Regions from separate parts of the Homo sapiens genome. Here all the other regions are linked to region 2. The links come from fine-mapping of genetic effects on gene expression. A gene starts in region 2. Each other region holds a variant in brackets. All regions are shown on one strand. Distances are between the middles of the regions. Region 1 has its middle 82 kb from the start of HIF1AN. Region 2 holds the start of HIF1AN (hypoxia inducible factor 1 subunit alpha inhibitor). Region 3 overlaps WNT8B (Wnt family member 8B). Region 4 overlaps SEC31B (SEC31 homolog B, COPII component). Region 5 has its middle 38 kb from the start of HIF1AN.

Evidence for each region. PIP is the estimated chance that this variant, and not a neighbour inherited with it, causes the effect.
Region 1: its variant is the best candidate, but not a certain one, in a credible set for the expression of HIF1AN in whole blood (TOPMed, PIP 0.59).
Region 3: its variant is the best candidate, but not a certain one, in a credible set for the expression of HIF1AN in whole blood (INTERVAL, PIP 0.69).
Region 4: its variant is the best candidate, but not a certain one, in a credible set for the expression of HIF1AN in transverse colon (GTEx, PIP 0.64).
Region 5: its variant is the best candidate, but not a certain one, in a credible set for the expression of HIF1AN in fibroblasts (GTEx, PIP 0.86).

The regions. Positions count from the first base shown.
Region 1 is chr10:100,615,616-100,620,745 of GRCh38, reverse strand. No RefSeq gene overlaps it. Among named protein-coding and RNA genes, the nearest start is that of HIF1AN, 82 kb to the right of the region's middle. The variant T/G (reference allele first, on the strand shown) is at 2,112.
Region 2 is chr10:100,532,738-100,537,841 of GRCh38, reverse strand. It overlaps HIF1AN (hypoxia inducible factor 1 subunit alpha inhibitor), which reads right to left and starts at 1,899. Exons shown (of 8, transcript NM_017902.3): 1 at 1,707-1,899; 2 at 1,181-1,431. The coding sequence starts at 1,883. RefSeq lists enhancers at 1,920-1,979, 2,050-2,139.
Region 3 is chr10:100,473,394-100,478,393 of GRCh38, reverse strand. The region is part of intron 1 of WNT8B (Wnt family member 8B); the gene reads right to left. Among named protein-coding and RNA genes, the nearest start is that of WNT8B, 13 kb to the right of the region's middle. The variant A/G (reference allele first, on the strand shown) is at 2,895.
Region 4 is chr10:100,497,907-100,503,036 of GRCh38, reverse strand. It overlaps SEC31B (SEC31 homolog B, COPII component), which reads left to right. Exons shown (of 26, transcript NM_015490.4): 11 at 553-783; 12 at 3,439-3,513; 13 at 3,779-3,877; 14 at 4,233-4,332; 15 at 4,830-5,008. Among named protein-coding and RNA genes, the nearest start is that of SEC31B, 19 kb to the left of the region's middle. The variant A/C (reference allele first, on the strand shown) is at 3,088.
Region 5 is chr10:100,571,818-100,576,947 of GRCh38, reverse strand. No RefSeq gene overlaps it. Among named protein-coding and RNA genes, the nearest start is that of HIF1AN, 38 kb to the right of the region's middle. The variant C/G (reference allele first, on the strand shown) is at 3,070.

The sequences.
Region 1 (5,130 bases), 83 kb before region 2:
CCACCTGCCCATCAGTGACCATGACAGTCCTTTGAGTTCCCCTGGTCTGAGAGTCACAGGAGAAGCAGGCCCAATCTGCAAGGATCAGCAAGACGGGGAACCCCCAGAGGGCAGCTCTCATCTCCCGCTCATCCCTCCCTAGCAGCAGAGCCCAGAGCTGGCTCTCAGGAGCTGTCAGTAAGTGCCCTTTGATTGATGAGTTGGGAAGGCTGAACTCTGCCACACTCCCCTCTCACTCTGGAGGGATGACACACCTGTCATACAGCCTGCACACTTACGTCCCAGCTCACCTGGACACATGTCAGGAGAGCCGGGAGTAATGACAGGGAACTCTTAGGTGGTCACCGTCCAGAACAGGAAGCTCAGAAGAGCCAAGTCTGTGTCACATAGCCATGTCCTAGTGAGTTTAGCTGTATTCGTTCATTCACTCACTCCTTTATTCACTTGTTCAACAGGTGTTTACTGAGGTTCCTGGGCTAGGGGCTGAGGGGGACACAAATGAATATTATTGGTCCTGGCTCTCAAGAAGTTTATAGTCCAGGACAGATGTAGGTCAGGTATACAAGCAATATCAGTATTAGGAAAGCCATGTCAGCAGCCAGGAAAGCTGTGGAGAGGGCCTATAAGGTTCCCAGAAAAGAGAAACCACTGCTGAGGGGGGAGAATAATCATAGCAATAATAATTATAGTAGCCAGCAGACACCTTGCACACATTTATAGGTAATGTTCAGAAGATGGCTTTGCTTGAATCAGGACTTGCAGAGGATTAAAATATTGATGGGCAGAGAGGAGTTGGGGTGTTGGAAGGTGATGCCATTCCAGAAGGAGATTGTCACAGGCAGAGGAAGGACATGAGTGAATGCTCGTAAGTGGGAAGTCGCTGTGTGGGGAATGTTCAGGGGAACCACTCTGAGTCCAATTTGGCTGGCAAATGTAAGCATGGAGGAGAGTAATGGGAAGGTTTGGAGAGAGGGGTGGGCAGGAGCCAGATAACAAAGGGCCCTGAATATCAGAGTAAGGAGTCTGCACTTTCTATAGCAGGCAACGGGGAGCCTTTGAGGGTGTTTGAGCAAGGGAGTGACATGATCAGAGCTGTGCTTTAGGAGAGTTATTCTGGCAGCAGTGTGTAGAACAATTAGAGACAGTAAAACTGAAAGGCAGAGGAGGATGCCTGACCTGGTACCTGATGCGGTACGCACTCAAAAGCAGTTTGTTGGTTGAAATGAAGTGACCTAGAAGAGCCATAATAAGGACCTTCATGGGGGTGGTGGTGACGGTGAGGCAAAGGTGGGTGCAAAAGGCATCAGGAAGTATCTCTGAAATTTGTTAATTGATGGAAGGTAGGGATGAGGACCAGGAAGGAGACAGAGGCTCCAAGAGTTCTGTGAGGGTCAATAGTGAGTGATAGGGCTATTAACAAAATAGGGGAGTCACAAGTTGTTGCTGGTTTTAGGAGAGACTTATGAGCTCGCTTTCCCACAGTTAGCCTTGTACTGCCTGAATTGTGGGCTTAGAGCTCAAGAAAAGCTTGGAAGTAGAGGTAGATGTTTCCATCACCTGCTGAAGGGGCTGGAGTATGAGATCTCCTGAGAGTCTGCAGGGAGGGGACAGCAGAGAGCTGAAGCTGAAGCTGAAGCTTTGCACTCTATCCATACCTGGGGGTGTGTGTGGGAAGCAAAAGAGACAGAGAAGGAGTGTTAGAGCTGAGAGAGGGGTGGGCGGGAGCGAAGGGCGAGGCAGCCAAGGGAGGAGTGAGCTTTAGGGGGTGACGGTATTCCCAAGGGTTCCCACAGGATGGGGCCTGAGAATCAGATGTAGGGTCTGTTGGTCAGGAGGCTGGACAGGAGGCCAGGGCAACCTTGTGCAGGGAACTATGGGTGGAGTTCCTGAGAGCAGGAGACACCCCAGGGCATAACATTCATAGACACTCCATTGCCTGCCCACTGCTCAGACCAGGCCCCAGACTTGCCGTTTCCCCAGAGGCCCTTCTGTCCCTCTCTTAGATGGAGTGGCTGCCAAGCTGGCCTGGACAGGAAAGTGGAGATCAATGAGATGAACTGCTCTCTGTCTTGGGATCACCAAGACCCTGAGATCTCAGCACATCTGGGGGC[T/G]TGTCGAGTTCATCCTATTTATTTGGCTGCAGACCATGCAACCACACCCTTCTCTGATGCAGTCTACACCCGTGTCCAGTCGTCCCCTGGACATGCTTGGCCATCCTTTTCCCTAGTGTCCTTGGTCATACTCCAAGCACTTGGGCTGGTGGTGCCGAGGCCCACAGGATCCCAGGACCCTGGGATAGAGGATGTGGCTGGGAAGCAGGGGAGCAGAGGAGACAGGTCCCAGAACCTTGCTTCCCATTTAGGAGGAGCTAGGCACGGGAGGTGGTGTGGGCCCCCACCCTCCCGGAGGGGACCCGCAGTCCTAAATGCCCCCGCGCCTTCTCCATATTGTGGGAAAAGCTGCCGCATCCATCACTGTCAGGCACCGAGTTTGAATAAATTTGAATGCACTGAGCCGTGGGCTGCAGTTTCTATAATATCACTTTCCAGTTTGAATATTTCACTTACTTTTTTTTTTTTAATTTCTTTTTATCCAACAGTTTCTCCTCCTTTTCATCTACCCCTGCTGCAGCCAAGTTCAGGATATAGAGAGAGGACAGTGCCTTGAGGGTGTCTGAGATGGGAAGAGGCCAGGACTTCACCAGCTTTGGCATCTCTGTCCTCCCACCCACTGGGACCCCTACCCAGCACATGTGCTCCCTGGACCCAGAGCCTGATCTCCCCCAGCTTGTGTAGATGGGGAAACAGCAGCCAGAGAATGAGCCGCCCTCACACTCCACCCCTTCTTCCCTACAGGGGCCTGAGCCCCTCACCTACTGACCCTCCATCACATGGGCGCATACACACATCATCTGATATATTGATTTTTCCCTAGATGTTAACAGTAGATTGCAATTTCCCACTACGAAGTTTGCTCCTAAGTCTCTCCAGCCACTGTCCTGCCTTCCCTTGTAAATAATGACCCCAATTCTAGACCCTTTCCACCACCTCCCTGCAGCTCTCAATCCATCGATGTGGTACCACCAATATAGCCATGTCTTCTGGATGAGGGCTGCTGGGAGGGAGGAAGGACTAGGGTCCTGGTGGCGCACCCTAGAGAACCACCCCCAGGTCCTGACCATGAACCCCATGATTTGTTAGACCTTGCTGGTGCCATCTCCACTCCCTTCCCAGAGCTCAGGGACTAGGGAGAGCCAAGGAGCAAGTCAGGAATGAGACTAACCAGGAACAAACAAGTCGGGATTTCATTTGAAGAGGAGTCCAGGTGGGGATGGGGAGGTAAGGAAGTTCCAAAGGGTCTTCTGGGAACCCTTTGAGTCTGTGAATATCTTTCCTTAGGGAGGTCTGGCCACACTGACCCTTGGACTATCCATAAGGCATGCCTACTACACTGACAATCTCTAGAGGGCAGTGACCCTTCATGAGGCTCCTGGTGACACTGACCATCAGTGAGGACACTCTGCTACATGGGGTACACTGACCAGCCAGCTGACATTGAATACTCCAACTATCTAAAAAGGACCCATGACATTGACCCTATGGGGATCCTTGACCTCTTTGATCTCCTCCAAGGAGACACCAACCGTCTAGGCTATCTCCTATGGAGACACTGTTCATAGAACATGTCCCCTTCCTCCTGCCAGAAACAGCACTCGCTTCGAATACTGACAGTCTCCCACAATGCCTGTATCTACCACATGGAAAAGATGTATGGTAGAAGGTGGGAGGTGGGGGATGAGAGGAAGCGGAGAGCCTTAGTGATCAGGGACCTTCTGGAGGTGATGATGCAGGTCCCTGCTCTGTGCCTGATCCTCTGTGCTCACAGTTAGGCTATGGAAGGGCAAGAGACAATTAGGCTATGGAAGGGCAAGAGACAGGGAGGAAATGGCCAGCCTTTGAGAAACTCATAGTTCAGCTAGAGAGTTGAAATTATCATTAAGAGTAATATTTATGCCAGGCGCAGTGGCTCATGCCTGTAATTCCAGCACTTTGGGAAGCTGAGGCGGGTGGATCACCTGAGATCAAGAGTTCAAGACAAGACTGGTCAACATGGCGAAACCCTGTCTCTACTAAAAATACAAAAATTAGCCTGGCATGGTGGCAGGTGCCTGTAATCCCAGCTACTCAGGAGGCTGAGGCAGGAGAATCACTTGAATCTGGATAGTGGAGGTTGCAGTGAGCTGAGATCACACCACTGCGCTACAGCCTGGGCAACACAGTGAGACTCCATTAAAAAACAGTAATATTTATTTCCACTTTACATTTTGCCATATTCAAAGGAGCTTGAGGGGATTAGGAAATGCACACACGCATGTACACACATATACACACATCACTCAAACAGTGAAAGAAGAAGAGAGAGGACATTTGGAAACCATTTAAAGGCAGGAGGGAGATAAATGGACTAGAGATCTGGTGGGAGAGAGTGTGTCCAGTTAGTGTGGCCCCTGCAGGCTGCGCCCGTGCTGTTACTGGCCCACCTCTCAGAGAGCTCATGCACCGTGGGTTCAGGTAGCTAGGGAAGGCTTTCTGGAGGAGGTGGAACCAGTCTGGGGACTTAACAGATGGCAGAAGTCCTAAACAGGAAAAAACCAACAGGAGCAGCATTCCAGCGGCAGGACCAGAGTGAGCCAAGTCAGAGAAATGAATGGAAGCTGAACGCATAGCCAGTGCCAGGTCAGGGAGGGGCTGGCAATGGGATTGGTGAGTTTGGGGTAGGGTAAGCAGGTGGGAGAGATACAATATATTCAGGGGACAGTGAAGAGATGAGAGAGAAACTGAAGGCCACTGATGGACAGGCTAGGGGTGGTTGATGTGCTGAGAGCACTTAGGAGGTACCTCAGACTAGCTTGGCCCCACCCCAATATTTCCTAATTCTAATTCAGGCCCTTCAGCACCCCTTTCTTGCAGCACCCCCACCCTCTATGAGCTCTAATTCAGCATCCCAGTAAAGACAGAACTCACCAGGGGAGAGAAGCCATACAAAACAGGGGCCCCTGGAAGAGGGGCACCCCTATGAGGGTGGGGGCTGAGCTCTCCTCCCCCCAGGGTGCCCCAGCGGGGCCTGCAG
Region 2 (5,104 bases):
TGTTAAGAAGAAGAAAAAAAGATATTTCAAATCCATTCACTTAGCCACAGACTGCTGATAAGGAGTCAGGAACAGGAGTGAGTGAAGCAAGAGACTAGAGAGAAACCCAGGGTTGGACACCAAATGCGAGAGGGTAATTCACCGTGAAGTACTGAGCGAAAGCAATTCCCCAGAGGCAGTGTTATAGTGTGGGACTGAATACTGTCTCGGACCTACATAAGAGGCTGTCCTCATAAGCAGGAATAAAAGCAGAGAGGAAGAATCACTGTCTTGTGTGTCTTGTGTTGCTGTTGTGATAGGAAAAACAAATTTAATCTGATCTTCCCTAAGCTAGAGAATCCTAACCTTCTTTACTGCAGAATCACAACAAACTATACAACTTTTCAGGTTGAACTATCCTCAGTCATCACAATACTTAAGGACAATGGCTACAAACAGGCATTTTCAGAGCTAAATCCAGTGACAAACATTTTTGTTTGGCCCCCTGCAACTTTTTTTCTTTAAATCTGATTTAGTTGCTCCATTTAAAGTCAAAAGATTTTAAATAAAAATCCTGATTTTGAACTTCTCTTGAAAATCGGAATATCTCCCAACCCTAGAACTGCACTCCAAAACTGAAGCAAGCAGAGTCAAGTAATGACCTCTCACCATGGTTTTTTGTTTTAGTTTTTAATTTTGCAGAGACTAGCTCTCACCACGTTTCCCAGGCTGGTCTTGAACTCCTGGACTCAAGCAATCCTCCCACCTCGGCCTCCCAAAGTGCTGGGATTACAGGCATGAGCCACCCCCGCCGGCCTTGGCTTCTCACTTTGAACAAGGCTTATGCCTTCAGCCTCATCACTGATTTCACACAGACGATATTACTCCTTCCATTCACCTGCCTGACCCTTCTAGGCAACTAACTCTTTATGAGGAAGAAGATGGGAACCCAGAGATTCATAGCTCAAGTTTAATCATTCCCTCATCCCTCAAGCTACAGAACTAGCTGGCTGTAGCACCAAGAACCACTAAGAACTCAAACCCCTTAAAGGCTGGAAGACCAGACTACTCCTTCAACTGGAATCCAGAGATGGGAGAGGCCAATCTCTAATTGACCCAATTCTGCCACACCTTCAAACAAGTATAGGAAAGAAAAATGAGTGTCCTAAATCCAACAGAAAATTAAGCTTTCGGAATTTACCTCTCTTCCCCTCCTCGCTGCTGTATATCCTGCAGTTTCTCAACGAACTCATGAAATTTCATTTCTTCCCTGTTGGACCTCGGCTTAAAGTTCTGGAAATTGGCCATCTTCTTCTCATCATAGTACAAGAACTTGTGGGTGCTGGCACTGTACACAGAGAAGTCTCCATTGCCAATATTCTCTTGCAGGTATTCAAGGTCCCATTTCAGGGCAGGATACACAAGATTTGTGTCGGTCAGCACCACAGGCTCCTAAATGAAAACAACAGGTGAAAAACACCAAATGAAGTAATGCCAAGGAGCCGGTGGGTTGGCCTCCATGATCCCAACTACTTCTCAACTTCAGAATAATTTCTCCTGTTAATCAGCACGAACCCCTAAGTTCCGTATCTCCTCGCCTTTCTCTCCATCTTCCCATAGGCCCTAGTCTAGAGCCCTGCCAGTCTCCCATCTCTTTCACCATTCACCTCTGACCTCTCAACCGGGTACCTTCCTCCTCTCCCTTTAGACGCGGCCCCGCCCCCCACCTCATTCTCAATAAGCTCCTCTGCCCGGGGGTCGCTCTGACTCAGACGCGGAATGGGCCTAGTCGGGAAGCTATAACTGCGCAACTGGGATTCATCCCAGGCGGGGCCGAGGGCTCCAGCCTCCTCCCGGGGCTCTCCAGAGCCAGAGGCCACAGCCTCCGCCGCTGTCGCCGCCATCTCCGCCGCCAGGGACGGCCCCCACCGGAACCGGAAGCTCCGCCTATTCCGGACCCCAAAAAAAAAAAAACAAAAAAACCACACACCCAACGGAAACCATAGAGATGAGCTGCGAGAGAGAGCGGTCCAGAGACATAAAGAACGCGGAGCCGAGGCCTGAGGGTGCGCCTCCTAATGGTAGTATGCAGCTCTACATCCTAGGCTCCACTGCTGAAGAAATGGGGCTAGACACTAGTCCCACGGAATAGGGACGACCTGGTAGAGCAAAACACAAAAAAAGTTGCCCCATGTGCCCGAGTCTACACAAGAGTCAAAGAAGGAAGCAAGTTCAGTTAGGCATTAAACTTTACACTCATGAATGGGGAGAAAAGCAAACTCTTGACCCACCTAAAGAAGTCAGAAGGAAAAGCAGTGATCACATTGGTAGATGTAGAGCAAAGGCTGACTGAAGGCTTAGGCAAAAGATATACAGCAAGTTGAATTCTTTCAAAATCAAAGACAGTTTTCTTTTGTTTAGCATCATTTGATTTTTCTGCCTATATCACCATGTCTCCTACTTGAATATATGTTTGCCGTGAATCGAATGTTATTAGAGGCCAACCATGGACATCTCACATTTTCAAACAATCTATACTGATTATAAAAGGCCATATTAATACCTCTATTGCTTACTTGGACAGTTCTTATGGCTGGCTGTGAGAGGCCCAATTCTAAGATGTATCCCAAGATTTGTACCCTACGGTGTACACATCCTGTATACATTTCTCCCCTTAAAAGAAAACACGACTGTGAATATGATAGAGCATCACTCCTGTAATTAGGTTAGCTTATATGACAAGGATGTAATTAAAGTCCCTAATCAATTAACTTTAAGGCAGTCAAAAAGAGGTGATTTATCCTGGTGGGCTTCATCTTATCACTCTAGCCCTTTAAATCAGGGCTAGAGGTCAGAGACAGAATCTAAGAGATTTGAAGCCACAGCACAGCTGTCCTGTTCACCTTGAAGGAGCAAACTGCCATATGGCAGGAAATGGCAGGTGGACTCTAGGAGCTGAGAAAGGCTCCTGGGTGACAGCCAACAAGAAAGTGGGCACCTTAATCCTACAAATGCAAGTAACTGAATTCTGGCAACAACCACTGAACTTGGGAAAGGACACACACGGAGCCTCAGATGAGATCGCTAACCCAGCCAACACCTTGATTTCAGCCTGATAAGACCCTGAGCTGAGGACTCAGCCAACCAGTACCTGGACTCATGGAATATGTGAGAAAATAAATTGGTGTTTTGGGCTGCTAAATTTACAGTAATTTGTTATGCAGTAATAGAAATGAATGCACTGGCTTAACTATGTAATTATGCTACATAGTAACCATGCTACACCAAACCGATAATAGGGCTACCTCTGTGGAAGTGTTTGAGGCTGCAGGGGGCAATCAAGGCTTTCATTTTATCTGCAGTGTTTGAATTTTTTTTTTTTTTTTGAGCTAGGGTCTCACTCTGTCACCCAGGCTGGAGTGCAGTGATGCAATCTTGGTTCACTGCAACCTCCACCTCCCCAGCTCAAGCAATCCTCCTACCATAGCCTCCCAAGTAGCTGGGACTAAAGGCACACACCACCATGCCGGACTAATTTTTTTTCCTTCTGTAGAGAAAGGGTTTTGCCATGTTGCTCAGGCTGAATGTTTGAATTTTTACAAGAATGTATTAATTCATAACCTTGGGAATTAAAAATAAATTAGGCCAGGCATGGTGGCACATGCCTGTAATCCCAGGACTTTTCAAGGCTGAGGCAGGAGGATTACTTGAGCCTGGGTGTTCCAGATCAGCCTGGGCAACATAGCAAGACCTCATCTCTACAAAAAATTTTAAAAATTAGCTCGGTGCGTTGATGCATGCCTGTAGTCCCAGCTACTAGGGAGGCTGAGGTAGGAGGATTGTTTGAGCCTGGGAGGTGCAGGCTGCAATGAGCCATGATCATGCCACTGCACTCCAGCCTGGATGACAGAGCAAGATCCTGTCTTACTAAAAATAAATAAATTAATTAAGATCAAGAAGATTAAAAGAACTAAAATCAGTAATGAAACAGGGATATTACTGCTGACTTTACCCCCCAAAAAAAGCATATAAGGACATACTGTAAACAATTGTATGTCAAAAAATTACAGAACCTAGATGAAATGGACAGATTCCTAGAAAGGCACAAGCTATAATAGCTGATTCAAGAAGAAATGGAAAATCTGAATAGACCTGTAACAAGAGATTGAATTAGGAATCAAAAACATCCCATAAAGAAAAGCCCAGAAACTGGGCATGGTGGCTTACATCTGTAATCCCTACACTTTGGGAGGCAGAGGCAAGCGAATCACTTGAGCCCAGAAGGTCGCGACCAGACTGGGCAACATGGAGAAACCCCATCTCTACCAAATCCCCCCAGCCAAAAAAAAAAAAAAAAAAAAATTAGCAGGCATGGTGGCACGCCTGTAGTTCCAGCTATTCGGGAAGCTGAAGTGGGAGGATCACTTGAGCCCGGAATGTGGAGGTTGCAGTCAACTGAGATTGCACCACTGCACTCCAGCCTTTTGAGACAGAGCTAGGCCTTGTCTCAAAAGAAAAGAAAAGGCTGGGCACAGTGGCTCATGCCTGTAATCTCAGAACTTTGGGAGGCCGAGGTCGGGGGGACCACCTGAGGTCAGGAGTTCGAGACTAGCCTGGCCAACATGGTAAAACCCCCATCGCTATCAAAAATACAAAAATTAGCCAGGCATGGTGGTGCACGCCTGTAGTCCCAGCTACTTGGGAGGCTGAGGCAGGAGAATCGCTTGAATCCCGGAGGCGGAGGTTGCAGTGAGCTGAGATCGTGCCACTGACTCCAGCCTGGGCAACAGAGCAAGATTCCATCTCAGGAAAAAAAAAAAAGAAAAAGAAAAAGAAAAGCTCAAGACCAGATAGATTTACTGATGAATCCTACCAAACATTTTTTAAAAAATTAACACTGGTCTGGGTGCAGTGGCTCATGTCTGGAATCCCAGCACTTTGGGAGGCCACGGCGGGTGAATCACGAGGTCAGGAGACCGAGACCATCCTGGCTAAAACGGTAAAACCCTGTCGCTACTAAAAATACAAAAAAATTAGCCGGGCATGGTGGCGGGTACCTGTAGTCCCAGCTACTCAGGAGGCTGAGGCAGGAGAATGGCGTGAACCTGGGAGGCGGAGCTTGCAG
Region 3 (5,000 bases), 59 kb after region 2:
TATTTTACATGTTGATCTTGTTAAATCCTTACTGTCTCAGGCATTATTATCTCTATTTTGCAGACAGGAAATCTGAGACTCCAGAAAAGTTAAACGTGTGTTCAGGCTCACCCAGCTAATAAGTGAGTGAAGCAGGATTTGAATCCACATTCATCTGACTCCGTGGGACGTTAGAAGGATACTTCTCTAATTAGGAAGAGGTAAACAAACAGTGGAATATCTCTCTAGGGATTGAGTCATAATAAAACTCTAAAAATAAGTAATGCGATTTGGAAAAATGGTTTGGCTGCCCCTTTTAAAACTAAAAATGGGCTGGGCACAGTGGCTCACGCCCATAATCCCAGCACTTTGGGAGGCTGAGGCAGGTGGATCACCTGAATCCAGGAGTTCAAGACCAGCCTAGGCATCATCATGGCAAAACCCCGTCTCTACTAAAAAAAAAAAAAAAAAATAGCTAGGCATGGTGGTATGCGCCTGTAATGCCAGCTACTCAGGTGGCTGAGGCACAAGAATCGCTTGAACCTGGGAGGCAGAGGCTGCAATGAGCTGAGATTGCACCACTGCACTCCAGCCTGAGCAACAGAGTGATATTCTGTCCCAAAAAAAAAACAAAAAAAAACTAAAAATGAACTTGTCATATGACTTAGCAATTGCACTCTTGGGCATTTATCCCAGAGAAATAAAGACTTACTTTCACTCAGAAATTTGTACCTGGATGCTCATAGCCACTTTATTAATAATAGTCAAAAATTGGAAACTACCCAATGTCCTTCAAAGGGTAGTTTAAAAAACTGTGGCCGGGTGCGGTGGCTCACGCCTGTAATCCTAGCACTTTGGGAGGCCAAGGCAGGCAGATCATGAGGTCAGGAGATCGAGACCATCCTGGCTAACATGGTGAAACCCTGTCTCTACTAAAAATACAAAAAATTAGCCAGGCGTGGTGGTGGGCACTTGTAGTTCCAGCTACTCAGGAGGCTAAGGCAGGAGAATGGCGTGAACCTGGGAATGGAGCTTGCAGTGAGCCAAGATCGCGCCACTGCACTCCAGCCTGGGTAACAGACCGAGACTCCAACTCAAAAATAAAATAAAATAAATAAATAAATGAATAAAAAATAAAAAACTGTGGTACATTCATACCATGGAATATTACTCAGCAATAAAAAGGAATGATACGTTGATACATGCAACAACTTGGATGAACCTCAAGGAAGTTACGGAGTGATTAAAGTCAGTCTCAGAAGGATACATACTGCATGATTCTATTTACATAACAATAGTGAAATAATAAAAATTATATAATTATAGAGCTGGAGGACAGATCAGTGGTTGCCAAGGATTTGGGATGGGGGATGGATGTGGCTGTAAAGAGTAACATGAGAAAGTCTTGGGGGAATGGCCAAATGTCTTTACTGTGGTTATACAAGGCTACACATGACAAAATTGCATAAAGCCACATACATGAGTACATGTACACACAAGTGCATGTAAAAATGGTGAAGTCTGAATAAGCTTCATGGATATCGTACTAACGTTGTAAGATGTTCACACTGGGGGAGGTTGGGGCAAGTGTACATGGGACTTCCCTGTACGTTTCTTCCCTGTACATGTCTTGCAACTCCATAATTATCTAAAAATAAAAAGTTAAATATATATGTACATATACACATGATCTGCAGGGCTAAAGACTTGGAGAATGACTTCAGTATAGGCATTTGAAAATCAGAATCTATTATCTATTATCTTTGTTTTTCCATTATAATGTGAGAAAGTAATACGGGAATCATTATGTATTGTTCCATGCTGGTGTACCCCTGCAATTCTGAAGGCCAATAAGATGCTGAACATCACCAGAAAGGGGATTGGAAATGAAATAGACCAAGAAAGTTTCTTGTCAGGCCAAAAGAGCTTGGCTGACTTTCTTCATAAAAAACACATACAACACCAAAAATGTGAGTAGTTTTTGAAAACCAGTATTAACAAACTAAGAGGCTGCCATATGAGATGAAAAAGATTCTAAACGAGTTGTAATAGAATTTTAGAAAATCAAAAATACTATGAAGTCTATCAAAACTAAGGCCTATTTTTTTTTTTAGACGGAGTCTCACTCTGTCACCCAAGCTAGAGTGGTGCCATCTCGGCTTACTGCAACCTCTGCCTCCCAGGTTCACACCATTCTCCTGCCTCAGCCTCCCGAGTAGCTGGGACTACAGGCACCTGCCACCATGCCCAGCTAATTTTTTTTTGATTTTTTTTTTTTTGTATTTTTAGTAGAGATGGGGTTTCACTGTGTTTGCCAGGATGGTCTCGATCTCCTGACCTCGTGATCTGCCCTCCTCGGCCTCCCAAAGTGCTGGGATTACAGGCGTGAGCCACCGCGCCCAGCCACCAAGGCCTACTTTTTAAAGCTTGGTAGGCAACCTTAATTCAACTGAAAAGAAGCACTGCTTGATCAGGTGTAGTAGCACCAGCAAAACACAAAAATACAATTCAGAATGACTTAAATGAATTCACAATTTCCAAAGCCATTATAGGTTTGGACATGAATTTCTGATCCTTAAAGACATGTCAGAGGAGTCAGCCAGGCCCCTTTGCTTTGGGGAAAGGGGCCTGAGCTTGTTCCCACTCAGAAAGGCACTTTTTATGTTAGGAATAACATTCAAAGATTTTGGACATTACCAAGCCTGACAGAGCTAGTTCCCATTTTCCATAAGACAGAAATTATCAGGAAAGAAAACAAAACAACAAAGCAAATTGAGTGACAAAGAAAATGCTTTGCCATAGCTGGGGTGAAGAGTCTTCCTGTGAAAGGAGTCTAAGCCGGAACTACAGGGAGTAATAGACAGAGATTCTAGAGAATTCTTTCCTGGAAGATCCTACAATATGCAAAGATTTGT[A/G]TGATATCCAGGTCAAGCCCAACTGATCAATGAATGAGACTTAATTGAGCACCTGTCATGGAACAACACTATAGGCCTTATTTGGACAACATTCCTATAAAGTGACTTGTGTTTTTGTTTTTTTTGTTGTTTGTTTTGTTTTGTTTTTGGAGACAGAGTCTCACTGTATCTTGCTCAGGCTTGAGTACAGTGGTGTGATGTCGGCTCACTGCAGACTCCACCTCCCGGGACTTGTGTTTTTCTGTTTGTTTGTTTTTTGAGACGGAGTCTTGCTCTGTCTTGCCCAGATTGGAGTGCAGTGGCATGATCTCGGCTCACTGCAGCCTCCGCCTCCCGAGTTCAAGCAATTCTCCTGTCTCAGCCTCCTGAGTAGCTGGGATTACAGGCGTGTGCCACCACACCCAGCTAATTTTGTAATTTTTGTAGAGATGGGGTTTCACCATGTTGGCCAGGCTGGTCTCGAACTCCCAATCTCAGGTGATCCGCCCACCTTGACATCCCAAAGTGCTGGGATTACAGGCGTGAGCCACCACGCCCAGCCAACTTGTGTTGTTAACCTCCGAGTTATTTGCAGACATATTTGAACCTTATGGCTAGCTTGTTCATATCCAAAATATCCTATATTAAGAAAAGACTCAGCTGGGTGCAGTGGCTCACGCCTGTAATCCCAGCACTTTGGGAGGCCAAGGCAGGCAGATCTTGAGGTCAGGAGTTTGAGACCAGCCTGACCAAAATGGTGAAACCCCGTCTCTACTAAAAATACAAAAATTAGCTGGGCGTGGTGATGCACCCCTGTAATCCCAGCTACTCAGGAGGCTGAGGCAGGAGAATCACTTGAACCCTGGAGGTGGAGTTTACAGTGAGCCAAGATCGTGCCACTGCACTCCAGCCTGGGCGACAGAGCGAGACTCTGTCTCAAAAAAAAAAGAAGACTGTCCTGTAGTGAGTACCAAAGGAGGAGGATCTTGTTCTTGGTCAATGAAACAATGACATGATTTCCTTTTGGGGGTAAAATATAGATTGCAGAAAACATAGTGAGTATTGTGAGAAGATGCAAAGAGAACCAAAAAGGAAGGAATTTAAGTGTTTGTATGGGTGCCACCTCTATGTGGCAGTTATGTGATTGAAGGAAAGATGCTAACAAACACTGAAGATGTAAATTTAAGATATAAATTTTGTTTAACAAATGGAGGCTGCTATATAGACAGAACATGGTAAAACAGTATACTCCCAGATGGAGGTACAAGCTTCCCATTTCCCATGAGGTTGTACAGTTGCTGACAATATTACCCAGATTCAGGACCATTCAAAGGGTTCATGACTTCCTGAACCCTCCCAGCTCTTCTCAGACATTTGCTTGAACTCTAGACTTGCATATCCAACTGTATTCTTGGCATCTCTCCTTCAGTGTTTAATACGCATCTCAAACTTAACGTGTCCAAAACTGAACTCCTGATCCTCGCTGCCATCACCCAAGCCTACCCCTTCTGTAGTCTTCTCCATCTAAGTAAAGGACTGTTCCTCCTAGTTGCTCAGACAAAAATCATGAAGAGTCACCTTTTTTTTTGTTTTTTAAGACAGAATCTTGCTCTGTTGCACAGGCTAGAGTGCAGTGGCGCCATCTTGGCTCATTACAACCTCCACCTCCTGGGTTCAAGCAATTCTTGTGCCTCAGCCTCCCAAGAAGCTGCGATTACAGGCATGCACTACCATGTCCAGCTAATGTTTGTATTTTTAGTAGAGATGGGGTTTGGCCACGTTGGCCAGGCTGGTCTCAAACTCCTGACCTCAAGCAATCCGCCTGCCTCAGCCTCCCAAAGTGCAAGATTACAGGCATGAGCCACCATGTCCAACCCATAATAGAATATTTTTTGACCATATAAAGGAATGAAGTACTGGATACAAGCTACAACATGGATGACCCTTGAAAATATCATCCTGAGTGAAAGAAGCCAGACACAAAAGGCCATAAATGATATGATTCTATCTATATCAAATGTCCAGCATAGGCAATCTCATGGAAACTGACTAGATTCACAGTTTCCAGGGACTGAGGGGAGGAGGAACGGGGAGTGAATGCTAATAAATAAAGGGTTTCTTTTTGAA
Region 4 (5,130 bases), 35 kb after region 2:
AGCTTAAGCTCTTTCCTGTGGCCTTGTGAAACCACACAGGCTCCTGAATAGCAGCAGGTTGGTACAAGCAATAGAGGGATAGTCTAAGGCTTAATTAGAGGAGGGAAAAGAACAGAAGGCTAGCAAACTATTTTAGTAATCTGGGGGTACTGGCACTGGGAATGGGATGGAGGGGACCTGCATGAAAGACAGTGAACAAGAATAGGTAGGACTTTGTCGTTGCTTGGCTATAGGGGGTATGAAGACTTTGCTAATGCTGAGGTATTTAGCCCAGGTGACTGGGAGAATGGTGGTACCAGGACAGGTTAGCAGAAGGTGAGTCTTGTGTGGTGAAGTTTGAAGTGGGTGGTCCTAAGAGTGCAGAAGTGGTTTTGGTAGGGAGACGAATTCAATACTAAATTCCTGATCCTATTCCACCCCCCAGGAACTCTCTTATTTTATTTATTTCCTAGCCTAGGGTCAGCCATTAGATAGCCTTCTCTGTGAATCTGACTTAGTGTTACTTTTTGACTTGAAGGTATAACCTTTACCCTTCTTGCTTTTCCTCACCAGTTTGGAGGGAAGCTGGTTACTTTTGGCCTCCCCAGCACCCCTGCCCATCTGGTGCCACAGCCTTGCCCCCGCCTAGTCTTCATCAGTCAAGTCACCACAGAATCTGAATTCCTGATGCGATCAGCTGAGCTGCAGGAGGCCTTGGGATCAGGAAATCTACTGAATTACTGTCAGAACAAGAGCCAGCAAGCTTTACTGCAAAGTGAAAAGATGCTGTGGCAGTTCCTGAAGGTGGGAAGCCTGAAGGCTAGCTGCTCAGAAGTGTCTCCCCAAAGCCTGGAACTCCAACCTCTGTCAACTGCAGGAGAAGCACAAGCACACTGGGACCCAGATCACAGAGGCCTTAACTCCCATTAGTTTTTCCCCCACACTATACCCACCATCTAGACACAAAACGTTCACCCTTTACCAGAGGCTCAAAGGCCATTTGGGAAGAGGCTAGGAAAGATGGGGAATACACGAGATGTTTTCTTTTGTTGCTACTATGGTTGATGTCCTAGGTATTTTACCAGGGCCAAGGCAAAGACCTTCACGGTATCATGCCAAAGGGCAGATAAGGTAATGGGAAGGAAGAAAAAAGGGAGGAAAGAGAAAAAGAGGAGAAAGGAAAAACATTAGTTAGAAGGACATATTGTCATAAGAAGGCTTTGAGTTGGTTTCAAGTAACCCAAGGCAAGTCCTTGGAGTGGGTCCTAGGGTTCAGGTGCCACTGTACACTGGAGGCATGGGTTCAGTTCCAGTTCTCATTTAATTTCAAGTTTCCTGTGACACCAGGAGGAGTACTATACCTATCAAAGGAAATGAGCAAGTGAGAGATCTGAAGGAAGAAAGGCAAGTAGCTGACTGGTCAGTCAGTGGGATGATTGTGCAAGTTTTTGGAATTGTTTAGAAGAAAGCAAAAAGGATTGGGCCTGTACCAGGGCATCTGAGAGGGACTTGAAATTTGAGCTTTAGGCATAGTAGAGCTTTATGAAGGTGGACATCAGGAAGTTAGAGAAAGAGGATTTGAGAAAGATCTTGACTATACAGTGAAGCCAGAGAATGATGTGGGAAGAAAAGAATAAGAAATGATGCTTTTGTCATAAGCAGGATACAAGTTCCAGGAATGGTGAGATGGTAAAGAGAGGGAGTGGTCAGGAGTTCAGCCTTTACTCCGCTAAACAAAGGAGACAGTGGTACCTATAGGACAGAGGGACCTATAGGACAGGGCATTCTGGGTTTTTTTGTTTTTGTTTTTTTGAGACAGAGTTTCACTCTTGTCGCTCAGGCTGGAGTACAATGGCATGATCTTGGCTTACTGCAACTTCTGCCTCCCGGGTTCAAGCAATTCTCCTGCCTCAGCCTCCTAAATAGCTGGGATTACAGGCACCTGCCACCACGCCTGTATTTTTTTTTAGAGACAGGGTTTTTTTTTTTTTGTATTTTTTGTATTTTTTTTGTAGTAGAGACAGGGTTTCACCATGTTGGCCAGGCTAGTCTCGAACTCCTGAACTCAGGTGATCCACCCACCTCAGCCTCCCAAAGTGCTGGCATTATAGGCGTGAGCCACCGCGCCTGGCCAGGCATTCTGGTTTAAAAGCTACCCAAGAGCTGTCCATCATGATGGTTCCTGGTTGGGTGTGGTGAACATTTCCAAGGGAAGGGCATGGAAGGAGAAGGGTGCCCAGAGAGACTATGAGAAAGGTATGGTTAGAAATCATGTTTCAGTGTGGAATAAATTAAGGGCCTGGGACAGCTAACCAAGATTACGGGGGCTTCAGAAAGGTTTGCTCCTTGGTATTTGGGACATTGAGTGGGAAGCTGACTTTGTTTACTGTACCTGTGCAACTTCTACCAGAGGTCTTCTCAAAGAAACATTTAGACTCACAAGGCTGGGTGCGGTGGCTCACGCCTGTAATCCCAGCAATTTGGGAGGCTGAGGTGGGTGGATCACCTGGGGTCAGGAGTTCGAGACCAGCCTGGCCAACATGGTGAAACCCTGTCTCTACTAAAAATACAAAAAATTAGCCGGGCGTGGTTGAGGGCGCCTGTAATTCCAGCTACTTAGGAGGCTGAGACAGGAGAATCACTTGAACCCTGAGGGTGGAGGTTGCAGTGAGCCGACATGGCGCCACTGTACTCCAGCCTGGTTGAGACAGCAAGAGTCTGTCTAAAAAAAAAAAAGAAAAGAAACATTTAGACTCACAAGACTACTGTAGGCTACACTTGGCAGCAGTCTCCTCGGAAGGATATGGGATAGGGACCACAGCAGGGTAGCATCAGGCAGGTGTCTTCTGTGGGAGCCCTTTCAGCAGTCATGCAGTAATTCAGAGTTCTCTTCTTCAGCCCGCCAGAGACAGCTCAGGTGCAAGGAGATGAGACTATACATCAGGCAGGTATGTAAGTTGCCCTGACTTAGAAGCTTCTTGCCCACAAGAGCCAATATCTCTTGTACCAATTCTAAAAGCATAGCTTCCGGAGTCCCTGCAAGGAATCTGTCCAGTTACAAGAGCCACTGCAAACAGGGAAATGCATAGCATGTTGTTCACATTAATT[A/C]TTTCTAGGTTACATAGTTCCAGTCCAGATGCAAGTTACCAATCACAAGCATATTGCCTAGGAACAGCTGACATTTTACTCTCACCAGACTACCAGGGTAACAGAGCTAGGAAGTCAATGAAAGGTCAAATTCTCATGTGCAAAGGGCAGGGGGCTATGTTAACACTGCTGATAGCCCATCAGTAAGTCAGATCCAGGGAGGAAAAAGAGATGGCATTGGACTGCTGAGGGCACTTCTAGTAGTACAAAGAACTATATTGGGTATACTGGCACAGATACCCAGCTTGTTGTAGGAAGAGCGTCATTTATGTTCATTTAATGGAATCTTTTCTGTGTTCTGTGGTTTCTTAGGTGACCTTAGAGCAAGACTCCAGAATGAAATTCCTAAAGCTTTTAGGATACAGTAAAGATGAGCTTCAGAAGAAGGTAAGCTGCTTTTCACATCAGAAACATGTACTTGTTGAAGAGAAGAAGAGAATGTTGCCAGAGTAAACCACCTCAGAATACCTCTTCCTGGCCTTATTATTGCATATGTGAGCATTTTACATCCTGGAGTTTGTTTTTTTCTCAGAAAAAAATAGATCAGGGATCTTAGAGAGTACAGTTGGTGGGGTATGGAGATAGGAAAAGAGGATAATGCTTATTTGATCTTACGCTTGAAAGAGCGGTTTTCAGAGGTCTCTCCCTGCAGGTGGCCACATGGTTGAAGAGTGACGTGGGGCTAGGTGAGAGTCCTCAGCCCAAGGGAAATGACCTCAACAGTGACAGACAACAGGCCTTCTGCAGCCAGGTGTGGTAGGAGTCCAGTCAGCCTGACCTATGGTAACACAGGAAACCTGCCTTTTGGGCATCTTTCCCTTCCTGGCCCTTTTCTTTGCTGTCTGTAAGTGTTTAGCGTCTGTAGAAGTCTTCAGACTCCTCACTCTCTTAGAACCAGAGTGAGACACAGAGTCCCTAAGCTTTTGGGCTGGGAGTGGAGAGCTGTGTCTTAACCATGAACTATGGCCCTCCCCAAACCTTACCTGGCTATTTTTTTAGTTTTACCCATTAACGGCCAAATAGTAGAGCTCTCAGGGCTACTAAGCCAGCTCTCTGTCTGTCTTGGGTTCATCCCTAAGTAGTCACCTCTGTCCTTCCTCATACAGGCCTCCAAACACACCACAAAGGAAGCCTCTGCTTCCTCAGCCTTCTTTGATGAGCTGGTCCCTCAGAACATGACTCCTTGGGAGATCCCCATCACAAAAGGTACCCTGACCCTGAGGGAGAGGGAGAGTCTCTGCTTAGGACTAGGTGGGCACGGAGGTTTTGGACTTGAGACATTCCCTTCTTGTCCCCTGCCTCGTGCCTTCCTCCCACCGTCTCAAATGCTGAGTGAGTCGCTTACCAGTTAGAGCTCTCTCTGGTTGTAGATTTTCATGGATACGTCCTTCCTATGGAAGGCCTTCTACCAACAGATTTTCTTCTATCCTTCTTGCTGAAAGGACTGTGGCCCTGCCCACTGTGATCAAGCACACCTCACACTGTGCTACTGCCACATCAGTTCCCTCCCTTGTCTTGGGCCCTGTCTTTAGACCTGGGCACCAAAATACATTTTATTGCCAAGGAGTGAAACTTGAGGATTTAGTTTGGAGCCAAGCACACTGAGTGATATAGAGATATAGAGGGTGTGCTGTGGGCCCTGCAGGGGGCAGGAAGTTGGGGTTTGAGAGCAACTAATGCACAGGGGATGCTTCTGCCTGCAGATATTGATGGACTCCTAAGCCAGGCTCTCCTGCTTGGGGAACTGGGTCCGGCCGTGGAGCTGTGTCTGAAGGAGGAGCGCTTTGCTGATGCCATTATCCTGGCCCAGGCTGGGGGTACAGATCTGCTGAAGCAAACACAGGAGCGCTACTTGGCCAAGAAGAAAACCAAAATCTCCTCGGTAACTGCCCATCATGCAGGAGAAGAAGGGAGGGGATTACTTGGACCTTGTGAGGTGGATACCCACACCTTGGGACCCATGTTTGAGTATCTGCCTGCCTCTCTCTTTCTACTCTAACCACC
Region 5 (5,130 bases), 39 kb before region 2:
AGCAAGAGGAATATTTGTGAATCACAGAACTCAGTAGTTTGCCCGAGGTCACACAGCTAGAAAGAGGTCGAATTAGAACTTGGGCAGTCTGGCTCCAGAGTCTGTTATCTAGGTGTGGGAGGGCCTCATCTGTGAAATGGGATCACCTCCTCTGTAAATGGGAATAATAATAGTGCCTGCCTCTTAGGGTTGTTGTAAGAACGAAGTGAGATTGTATAGGTCAGGCTGGCATGTGATAAGTCCTCAGTGAAGATCCACTACTGTAATTTACTATACCCTGCACATAGTAGGTTATAAGGAAACTTGTTGATGTTGAGGAGGAGGAGGATGAAGGGCAGGGCAGGGGAGGAAGGAAGATGCCACTGTCTAGGCAGGTAATGAAGAAGGTTGAGGGAACAGGTTGGGGCCATGACCCAAAGGACACTCCAGGGCTTGCTTGGACACACTGGGGCCCAGGGGAGTGTGGAACTCAGAATATGAAAGAGTCTTGGGGGTGAGCTGTCCACGAGCCCGGAGGAGCCTCGAACTCTGACCAGGGCAGGGTGGAAAGCACAAGACATGGCCATGAACTTGTTGGTACTGATGTCAACCTTGGTTGCCGGCAGGTCAGTATGCATGCATAAAAGGGCGTGTTTGGTGCCTGTGGGTCTGAGTTGGAGCCTCTTGTAGGGGCATCAAGGAAGACTTCTTGGAACAGGTGACTTCTAAACGTGGCTTTAAAAGCTGTATTAATATAATGTGAATGGTGGTGAAGCAGGAAACTGCTGGCTGTCAGGGAAGGTGGCCAGTCTTGAAGGTCTTGTGGGGGGTGGGAGTAGTGGAATTGGAAGGGGTGAGTTGGGCCCATATGGTGCAGAGCTTGGAATGCCACACTGAACCATCTTTGCCAGTGGGGCACTTGCTTGGAATAATGCTTCAGAAAGAATAGCTAGGCAACAGGAGATGGGGGGGCAAAGATGAGGAGGGAAGCCATAACAGCCAGGAGGAATATATCCTGGGGTCACCCTTTGCCTGCATGCTTGTGAAGTCATCTCCTACATTCCCCTGGTCCCCTGACAGATTGATTATCCTGGGTGAAAGGAGAAGGGGACCATCAAAGAGTCATCGGTCCCTCGGGGTTTCGTGTTCTCGGAAAGCACGTAACTCTCATCATCTTGCTGCAGTGTAAGTGGGACCTGGAGATGGACAGTGCAGGGAGAATGCTGATGGCATGGAGAGAGGGCGGAGTTAGAGGAGGAAAGCAAGCCCAAATACATGGCGTACAGTGCCTATCCTATGAATATTTCTTGATCATTTGACTAAGAGAAAGACAGAAACACCCAAAGAGAGATACATACAAAGGGAAGAAGAAAAAGAGAAGATTCCTCCAGAAGAGGAATGTGTCTTATTTCTCATTTGTCTCCCATGGCACCAGCCAGTGCCTTGTACAGAGTAAAAGCTTGATATTTATTTGTTGAATTGAGAGACTCAGAGATTCATAAAGTGGCCAACAACTGAGATGAACACAAAAACGGGGAGAGCCAAGTTTTTTTGTGGGGGGTTGGTGGTCCTCCCTGCCCTTGCGGCCATCTGTTTGCCATCATTTCCATGCCCCATAACAAAAATGCAAGTCCCGGCCGGCGCAGTGGCTCATGCTTATAATCCCAGCACTTTGGGAGGCCAAAGCGGGTGGATCACCTGAGGTCAGGAGTTCCAGACCATCCTGGCCAATATGGTGAAATCCTGTCTCTACTAAAAATACAAAAATTAGCTGGGTGCAGTGGCAGGTGCCTGTAGTCCCAGCTACTCGGGAGGCTGAAGCAGGAGAATCACTTGAACCCAGGAGACAGAGGTTGCAGTAAGCCAAGATCGCGCCACTGCACTCCAGCCTGGCAACAGAATGAGGCTCCATCGCAAAAAAAAAGCAAGTCCAAAGGCTGGACTCAAGCCTGAAAAGTGAACAGGTCTCAAAAATGACTTACTTCAGAGGTATAACCCCAGGTCCTTGGAATCCTGGCAGGAAGGAAGAGGGGGTGGTCAGGAAAAGAACCCTAGGCCAGGACTAAGTTGATGGATTTGGGGGAAAGACTGCTTGAGCTCGCCGGGCATGGGGTAGGGGGTGGAAGGAGGTACTCTGCCTTCCCATGGTTCCCAGCCTCTCCCCTCATCATCCCAAACCCAGGCCCTGCTCAGAGGCAGCCTGTGACACACAAGTAAATGCCTTACTATGGGAGGCAGAGCTGAGCCATGCGTATGGGGACTCTTAGAGACAGAAGCAGGTAGATGGGGGAGGAGGAGGCAGAGAGGGAGGGTAGGGGAGAGGGAAAAGGAAAATAGAGGGGAAGAGGGAGAGAAGGGGGCAGAGAGAGGGGAGAGGGAGGAAGGGACAGAGACAGAGACAGAATGTTTTTCCCAAACTAGAAAATCACATAGTCAATACAAACAAGTATGTAACAGGTGCTAAACATAAACATCAGGGGCTCAGAGTCTGATGATCTTTCCAACTGTCAGCTCCTCAGTTTACCTGTTTATCTCTCTGATTAATGTGGCCCCATGGCATCACCAGCACCTAGATTCCTTTCACATCTCTTCTCTGTCATCCTTGGCATGTCAGCTTTTGAACTCAGGCTGAACCTCAGGGTGTCAAAAAGGCTGGAGCAACCCAACACATTACATCTTCACATAGCAAAGCGAGAATCCAGAAGGAGGAAAGGGGCACATCCCTTCCATCTATCCTTTTTTAAGACTGCAGTAAAATTTCCCAAAAGCTTCGTAATAGACTACCTCCCACATATCGATGGTCAGAATTGTATCATAGGCCAGGCATGCTGGCTCACATCTGTAATCCCAGCACTTTGGGAGGCCGAGGCAGGTGGATCACCTGAGGTCGGGAGTTCAAGACCAGCCTGACCAACATGGAGAAACCGTGTTTCTACTAAAAATACAAAATTAGCTGGGTGTGGTGGTGCATGCCTGTAATCCCAGCTACTCAGGAGGCTGAGGCAGGAGAATCACTTGAACCCGGGAGGCAGAGGTTGCGGTAAGCCAAGATCACACCATTGCACTACAGCCTGAGCAACGAGAGCAAAA[C/G]TTTGTATAAAAAAAAAAAAGTTGTATCATATGTCCATTCCCAAATCATCCATCCAAGATGAATGGAGTTACCATGATTTTCCTAGAACAATTAAGAGTCACCTGTTGGACAAGTGAAGTGTTTAACTTTCTCCAAAGCATTGGACTTCAAACCCACGAAAGTGGGTTCCTTAACAAAGAACGATGGAATGTGGGGCCTGGCTGTGGGGTAGGCCATCAGCAGAGCTGGCTCCATTCTGTGTCCTGAGCTACGCATCCATCTTCTCTGTGCAACCAGCTGTCCATCTGTCTGTCTATTGATTTGTCTGCCTGTCTGTTGGTCTATCTCTCAGTCACTCCTCAGGACTGTCTGCCTGCCTGCCTATTCATGTCAGTCTGTGTGTCTATCTGTACATCTATTTATCTATGTCTCTATTTGTCTTTTGGTCTATCTAGAAATAAATATATCCACCAGTTGGTGTCTTTCGTCAGTATGCCTATCTGTCGCTATCTATCCATCTTGAGTTTCCGTCTACTACTGCCCTTCTCTCCCTTACCTGTCCCATGTTTAACAAGTGGACAGGTCTTTTGTTTCCTTCCCCCTCCCCATGCCCGCCACACAGAATGGTCTGAAATAACTCATGAAACTCATTACCTTAGACAGAGCACAGACCACAGGGCCCCTCATAGCAACAGCGATGGCAGCAAGTTGGCCAGAGTTACTATGTCTCACCTTCCCAGGCCCCACCCAGAGGCTGAGCTGCCACGGTCTCTACCAGTGATCAGGCCCTCCTATACCTGAGATCCCTGAGGGTTTCTATTCATTCATTCATGCTTGGATAAATATTGATTGAGTACTATGTGCCGAGCCCTTTGTTAAGTGATGGGGATACGGAAGTGAATAGGACAAGCATGATCCCCCCCATGCGTGTGCACACACAAGTCCTCAAATATACATTTGCAGACATACACTGCCGCGTCAGGTACTGCCAGCCTCTGCAAACAATTGTTGATCCTAGTATGTGGATGGCACTTAAGCCAGCGTCGTTCAAAAGCACATCTTACACACACAAAAACACACACATACACACAGTGTTTAGTGCCCTGAGGCCCCCATAGGAGGGCACAGGATTCCTTATTTCTGTTCCCACATCTACTCTTTTTTTTGGGGGAGGGGGAGGGAGTCTCACTCTGTCACCCAGGCTGGAGTGCAGTGGCACGATCTCTGCTCACTGCAACCTCTGCCTCCCAGGTTCAAGTGATCCTCCTGCCTCAGCCTCCCGAGTAGCTGGAACTACAAGCACATGCCACCATGCCCAGCTAATTGTTGTATTTTTAGTAGAGACGGGGTTTCACCATGTCGGCCAGGCTGGTCTCAAACTCTTGACCTTGTGATCCACCCACCTCGGCCTCCCAAAGTGCTGGGACTACAGGCGTGAGCCACTGCACCTGACCTTTTTTTTTTTTTTTTTTCTGAGACAGAGTTTCGCTCTTGTCACCCAGGCTGGAGGGCAGTGGCACGATCTTGGCTCACTGCAACCTCCACCTCCTGGGTTCAAGCAATTCTCCTGCCTCAGCCTCCTGAGTAGTTGGAATTACAGGCCCCCGCCACCACGCCCAGCTAATTTTTGTATTTTTAGTAGAGACGGGGTTTCACCATGTTGGCAAGGCTGGTCTCACACTCCTGGTCTCAGGTGATCCGCCCTCCTTGGCCTCCCAAAGTGCTGGGATTACAGGTGTGAGCCACTGCACCCAGCCCCACGTCTTCTCGACTCCCTGCATGACCTTGAGTAATCATTTCTTGACCATACAGTGTTCCCTTGTACAAAATGGGGCACACCTGGCCCAGGGATCAACCTCCTGACTCATTCCCCCGGACTACTCAATTCACATTCCTTTACAGCATAGAAGTTGCTTCCAAACTGTCTCTCACCGTGAACATGTCTCTCTCCTTCCTCCTATCTCTGACCACCTGCCTCCTTCATGTCTCCAGAGGTTCTCCTCTGACAGTGCTCCTGGTTCTCTTTCCCTTTGGAGTATCTGGGAATGGGTCTCTGTCTTTGTATGGTGTTTCAGTGTGAA